2 linked regions of the Homo sapiens genome follow. The protein of the gene in region 1 purifies or fractionates together with the protein of each later gene. This does not show direct contact. Each region holds a gene or a part of one and is shown on either strand. Other genes may lie near its edges. The genes, in order: CCDC172 and MIPOL1.

Region 1 (3,835 bases):
TCCAGTTTTGTAGGTTTATCACTCAGTCATAAAAATGTGCTCTGGGTTAAAATTAAACACACAAAGTCTGTTAGAGAATGCTTTTTCCTTCACAAATGATGACTTAGGAAATTTGGATAGAAAGAAATACCAGTGCATATATTTAGTCCATTCATTGCATTTTAGCAGTTATTAAATTAAATGCCAATATTTATCAATTCCTACTTTTTCATTCATTGATATGTGTACTTAGTTTCCCAATTAGCATGTTTCATAAGTTTTCCCAGGTGTGAAGAGTGAAGTCAAAGTACTGAGTATAAAGATTTTAGGAAAGAGGACTATCAGTCTTACAATTAATGCAATAACAAGAAGCTAATGATGTCAAAAAACAATAAGACATTGATTCAGCTTCATCATGAAGGCCAAAATTAAGTTGATGTTGTTATTGAATTTTGGGATAGAATAGTCTTTTTCATCTCTGTGTTCAAATGTATATGGAATTCCATAATAGTTGCATTTCTCTTAATTTGTCGGGTTTGACTTCTTAATGGAGTAGATGTTATTTTTATAGCAGGATTTCTCAAACTTGGCCTTGTTGACATTTTAGACCAGATTATTCTTTGTTGTCGGGGGCTGTTCAATGCATTGTGAGATGTTTAGTAGTAACCCTGTCCTCTACCCACTAGATGCAGTAGCACCCTGCATTCACCGGTTGTGGCAACCAAAAATGTCTCCAGACATTGCAAAATGTCCGCTGGGGAAGGGGGTTGCAAAGTCCCCCCAAGTTGAGAACCAGCTTTATTTTAAGGTTATTATGACTTCTACATTCATTAACTTTAACCAGTAAGAAAGCAATTACAGAGGAAATCTTTAATATTAATTCATTTCTATGAGCTTACTGTTTCTAGTTTTAGTAATTAGACAACTTTAATACATGCTTTATTTTGTCTATATTGAAATTCTTTTATAACGATTATGGTTCATGTTTTAAAGCTTAATATGCCATGTTCAGGTTATTTGTTGGAATCTATCTTGATGTTATCCATTACTGTAGAGAACCAGTGTTTCACAGTTTAGTGGTCTCTGCTTTAGGTAAAGTTTGCATTCACAATGGTTTAATGGTTCACATTCAGAATGATAATAGTCTCTGCTTTAAATAATCTGTCTCTATTTATAAATATCAAGATGTTTGTTTATTTAAACATTCTGTTTTGAAGAGTAAGTGTGTAACTAACACACATTTAAGCAGCTGACTTATAGAATATTGCTATGATTTACACTTAAACCATAGGTTAGGTTAATTTATCAGAAACCTCCCAAAGAGGTATGTAATTATGACTGATCTGGTTTTTTCATATAGTGTAGGGAGAACAGAAATAATAAAGATCAGAGTCTTAAGAGGCAGTAAGCATAGTGGTTAAACCCTTTTGAAACCCAGCTCTCCCCCCACTTATGGTTCATCTTTCTTTCACTCTTTGCATCTTGCACAGTCCAGGGCACATAGTGTTCAATAAATATTTGTTCCCGTAATTGAGTCTACATATAATTGAATTTTCACTACGAAAAGATTAAAGTTCATCTTCATATATTTTCAGTGTTATTTGCAAAGACATTATGTATTCTAACCACTGGGAAAGTGCCACTTTGGAATGGATTATTTTCATTCCTATCTTTTTCTTCGATGTGGAAAAAGCTTTACAAGTTTAATCATGCTGACCTCCCCTTAGTCCCTCATTCCCTTATCCTAATGTGGAGAGGAGTGACACAGTCTGATCGGTGAATCTGGAAAGGCAAACTGGGAAATGTGGAGCCCAGCCCCTTTCTTTTCCCTGTCTCTTTGGAACATTGCCTGCCTCAGAGAGCGTGTTTTCCCACTCTGCTTCTCCATCTCTTAAGTTTTATCATTGCTGGACTCCACAAGAGAAAGCCTGTGGGGTCCACTGCTACCTTTAATGGTGTGAGTTAAGTTAGTCTAATACTGGGGTTTGATATTAGCAAACCCTTGCCTACAGATTTAAGCCACATTCTCCAGTATCTGCTATATCAGTAATAAATGTGACATTTATGCTTGCCTTCTGCCTTTCTTATTTTTTGATTGGGCAGATTTCAGGCAGGAAAGAAGAGTATTATATATTGGGCCTCTGTAAACCCCCAAACCTATTATTATTATTATTATTATTATTATTATTATTATTATTATTATTATTATTTGAGACAAAGTCTTGCTCTGTATCCCAGAGCAAGGGATTACAGGCATGCACCGCCACGCCTGACTAATTTTTGTATTTTTAGTAGAGACACGGTTTCACCACGTTGGCCAGACTGATCTCGAACTCCTGACCCCAAGTGATACACCTGCCTCAGTCTCCCAAAGTGTTAAGATTACAGGCGTGAGCCACTGCACAAACCTATTATTTTTTGTTATTACCCAACACGAGGTTTACCAAAATGCACAGTTCTTGATCATGATTTTTTTTATTTACTCCAAATTATAACATAACAGACAATTTTAAACATTTCAGGAATTTTCTTTCACCACAAAACTTCCTTCTAGAATGGTTGTACATCTTGTATTACTGATATTTGTGCTTGTTTAATGCAATAGGAAGATTGTTTTAGGAATAAATCTGCATAGGCAACAGCATGAGATTTTCATTCTGAGCACTTAAAGATGGTGTGGCTTTGTTTCATCACCACAAGACAGGGCAATAAGAACAAAAAGAAATGAAAAGAAAAAAAGGTAGTATGGTTTGTGAAGAGCATATTTGCAATGTAAGCTGCACAAAAGTTAATATACACCTGCTACGAGAGACTCTAAATGCATTAATGTCATGTAGTAAAGCAGTGCTGTGACCTCTTCAGTGAAAAAGTCATCTAGTTAAGTTGGTCATAGAGGTCACACTGTTGGTCCTTAGACTTGTAAGAAGGCATAAACTCAATATGGTATTAACATGTTTTCAAACTCTTTCAAGGATACATAAATAAATATGTATATTTTCACATGTATATATTTTTTATTATGAGAACAGGCGGGCCAGGTGTGGTGGCTCATGCCTGTAATCCTAACACTTTGGGAGGCCAACGGGGGCAGATCACGAGGTCAGGAGATTGAGACCATCCTGGCTAACATGGTGAAACCCCGTCTCTACTAAAAATACAAAAAAAACTAGCCGGGCGTGGTGGCAGGCACCTGTAGCCTCAGCTACTCGGGAGGCTGAGGCAGGAGAATGGTGTGAACCTGAGAGGCAGAGCTTGCAGTGAGCCGAGATCGCTTTTCATACCCTTGCTCTGACACCCCAAGTGTGACTACTGTTAAAAGTTTGATGTGTATACTGTCAGAATTTATTTCTGTTTGTGTGTGTACACACATGTACATAGGTATGTCTGTGTGTGTTTAGCAAAAATGGGATTATGAATCACACTGGTCTGCAGTTTGCTTAATTATTTATCAAAATGTAGATGTTTTCATTTTAGTTTGTACTAATCTTCATTCTTTTTCATGCTATTATATGGAGATGCCATATTTATATAACCAGTCTCTCATTAATGGATGTACAAGATAGTTTCTAAATATTCATAATTAGACACACTTTTATAAATGTATCCTTAAATACTTGCAAGAGTCTTTCTGTAACATTATTTAGAATAAGCAGCATTTCGTAGAGTAATATGAATTGTTACCCAGGTTCCATTTATAAAATAGTCTACATTATCTTTGCTCTTTGTTTTCAACAACAGAGAAGCTCAAAGTAGACAAGAGTAACAAGATCTCAGTTCTACAGTGTCCTCAAAATATTAGTCAAATAGTTGTGTGTCTGTACCTTACCTATATTGTCTCCATCTTTTTTAACATTTA
Region 2 (3,835 bases), on another chromosome or scaffold:
TCTGTATTTTGTTCTTCACATTTTTTCAAGCTGAATACTTTGTATATATGCACTTTGTGTAATTTAAAACGTAATTAACAATTAAAATATAACTAATGTTTTAAATATAAAGAACATAAACAAGTACCTTTTTTAAGGTTTAGCTTTTAGTTTGTTTCTTCTTTTCTTTCTTTCTTTCTTGCATCTTTCATGGAGATAAAGAGGGTGAGCTGAAGAAAATTGGAACTTGGAACAGACAAGAATGCAGAAAGTGAGAGGACACAGAAAAAATAGTAAAATGGGCAAGAGACAGCCTTTAAGCATATGGGTTGGTAGAAAAATCTGAGAAGAAATGAAGTAGGGATAGTTAGATTAATAACAATGTGCAAACCATGAAAAAAGGTATTTTTTGCACTCTACAAATGTGGCACTACACACTATTCTAATTTTCTGTGTAGTAACCAGTTGACCAGCGCTTAGTAACAGTCCGTATTCTTAGGGGTTTGAATCCTGAAGTGGTTTCATTTGGTATGCTGACTGTCCTTGTTTCATATCCATCCTAGTTCTATGGGACGCCTTCTCCAAAATAAGCATACTGTAAAGGCTTATAGATAACTTAAACTAAAAGAGGAAATTTATAATTACTTTGAACAGTTTTAAAGAAAGTATCAGGCTAGATATTAGGACAATGCCAAAGTTCACTAACTAGCTTTTTGCAGGTTTAATAATGATATTGCTTTCCTTCCCATTATCAATCTATATTATATAGTTAAGTTGTTTTACTTCAAATGTCTCCAATCGACATTTCCTTTGTATGCATATACTGAAATGATATTTAATAAAAAAGAACATCTCCTGTGTGGAGTTTAAATTTCTCTTATTAAATATTTATATTTTCAAAATGTCTTTATTTAATTGAGTGAGGTGCTTGGTGCCATTTCAAAATAACCTCAGGTGGTAGGTGTAATGACATATCAAAGATTTGACCTTTAGCATTTTAGGATTCTATTTGTCTGCATTTTCTTCTGCATTCATTTAGTCTTAATTTATATGCTATTTCTCTGTATGACTTAATGAGTAGATGTATTCGTTAAGAGATTCATTAGCCAAAAAAAAATATACACATGTATATATGAATACATTTTATTTCTGTGCAATCTGACTAGTGATTTTAAATTCATTTATATCTCAACTGTGACAAGTAGAAGATCAAGTAGAAAATGCTATGTAGAAGGCTGGTCAGTGTTTGCATAAACCTCATCCATTCTCATTAAGTGCTTGGCAGAATAGACCCTCGATCTCCTAAACCAATGCCCATTCTCTTCTCACTTCTTTCAGCTTATTACATTCTTTTATTTGCCTAGAGATACTTTATTTTCCAGTTCTCTGCTATTCCTTTTAAAGAAAATTGAATGTAATATTTACACTGATATAATTAAATTAACATCTTGCAGCATCTTTTTGTATGCTTTGGTAGCATAATCATTTGTCTGGGTAGCTTTCAGCCTAGAAGCAGAGAAATTATCAATTATAATGTTGTGACATAAAAATTATTTTCATTTGCTCATTTAAGTATTTATTGATTTTTAGAACTAGAGATTCTAAATGGAGGTTTTTGTTAAATAGATCATAGATCACTCAGTTTACATTACTTATCTTTAAATTTTTTTTAATATTTTCTCAGTTTACACAAATCTTTATCTCAAGAAGAAAATCTGAAGGATCAGTTTAACTATACCCTTAGTACATATGAAGAAGCTTTAAAAAACAGAGAGAACATTGTTTCCATCACTCAACAACAAAATGAGGAACTGGCTACTCAACTGCAACAAGCTCTGACAGAGCGAGCAAATATGGAATTACAACTTCAACATGCCAGAGAGGCCTCCCAAGTGGCCAATGAAAAAGTTCAAAAGTAAGTTAAATGATCTTGTAATAATACTTCAAACACATGAAACAAAACAAAACACTTTCTTTTGGGAACTAAACAATATGTAGTTATTGATCATGTTAATAGTTTAGAACAAAAGTAGAATTAACCCAGTGAACTTTTTTAGATTGGATACCATATGCCATATTTGGGGTCAAAAAAGTCATTTTCTTGGGAACCATTGTTACCCTGTAGGGCAAACCATTTTTATTTAATAACTGATCATCAGTTCATGGAGGCCATACTATTTAAATCATTTCACAGTCACAAGTTAATAGGCAAAGTTATTAGCAAGGGGAAGAGGCAGTCAAGTTACCACCTGAACTAATTTAGCTTTACAATAATCCTGCTTGAGTTGAGATCATCTGTGACATTGCAACCTGAGACTTGTAGGTGCATAAAAACCAGTAGGGTGAAATTAATTTTCTTGTGTTGTTCTTCTGAAGTATTCAATACTGCTTTTCACAGTGCATAATTATATATGTTTATTTTGAATGATCTTTGCATTTTTATTAGAATTTAAATAAAGCTGCATAATCTGTCAGTCCTTTTGACAGCTAGCAAAATGTTAACAAACAGCTTACCAGGCAAAGAAGTCACTTGTTAATTTAATGGACTTGAACATTGTAGCAGAATTTTCTGAGACACCTTTAATGTAATAGAACCACTGTAATAGAATACATAGAACACATGTAATAGAATATATTTTAACCTTCTTTATGTATTGTTAACAGCACTACAGCATTCACATATCTAGTCACCTTCAATTTCAAAGATATACCTTTTTCCTTAACAATTTTTATGTCAGTTTTACACTGTGAAGCAGTGCTCACATCAAGGTTTCTTACTTCCCACTACTTCTTATTTGAAAATGTCATCTTGACCATTTCCTCAATATCCCTGAAGTTATATTTTGATTAATAGCCAAAGTTATGTAAGTCAGTAGTTTTAAATTAGACCATTTTAAAACAGTTTAGAAATTGTGCATTTTAATCTTTACTAGCCATGTACCTTGAAACTTTTGATTTATGTAGGTATTATATATATTTGTAAGTTTAAAGATGGGGTTTATATTCAGTCAGAAACTATATGCAGTTATTCACAATGTACGTTAATATTCTAAGAACACTATGATGTATAGGTAGATCTCATTTCATTATAAATCACAATCAGTAACTTTTGACAGGATCTGATTTGGCTCTGTTTGCTTAAAGTCTACAAATACATACAAATTTCAAATTTTTCTTTATATATAATCCATTAATTTCTATACATGACCAAAATTCCCTAAAACAGTGGTTCCCACAGACCAATTCTATTTTCAAAAAATCTTCGGATGTGTTATCAACCTTTTATTTTTTAGATCTCATCAACTATCATCATCATTTCATTTAAAAAAACAATTTTTATACACCAAGAAGTAGAAATAATATCATCTCAGATAATGTTTTAAATTAAATAACTTTACTGAATGGCCAAGATAACCAAATAGGAACAGCTCTAGTCTGCAGCTCCCAGTGTTGATCGACACAGAAGATGGGTGATTTCTGTATTTCCACCTGAGATACCTGGTTCATCTCGTTGGGACTGGTTGGACAGTGCATGCAGCCCACCGAGGGTGAGCCAAAGCAGGGCAGGGTGTCACCTCACCTGGGAAGCACAAGGTGTCGGGGGATTTCTTTTTCCTAGCCAAGGGAAGCCGTGACAGACTGTACCTGGAAAATCGGTACACTCCCACCCAAATACTGTGCTTTTCCCACAGTCTTACCAACCTGCAGACCAGGAGATTCTCTCTCATGCCTGGCTTGGTGGGTCCCACGCCCATGGAGCATGGCTCACTGCTAGCATGGCAGTCTGAGATCCACCTGTGAGGCTGCAGCCTGGCAGGGGGAGGGGCGTCTGCCATTGCTGAGGCTTGAAGGTAAA

The links.
Region 2: the proteins of CCDC172 (region 1) and MIPOL1 purify together in Homo sapiens (affinity purification with mass spectrometry; 2 studies listed by BioGRID and IntAct, with this or other methods). This does not show direct contact.

The regions. Positions count from the first base shown.
Region 1 is NC_000010.11:116,358,896-116,362,730, forward strand, and holds part of CCDC172 (coiled-coil domain-containing protein 172), read left to right. Parts: intron 1-3,835.
Region 2 is NC_000014.9:37,498,245-37,502,079, forward strand, and holds part of MIPOL1 (mirror-image polydactyly gene 1 protein), read left to right. Parts: intron 1-1,663; coding exon 1,664-1,894; intron 1,895-3,835.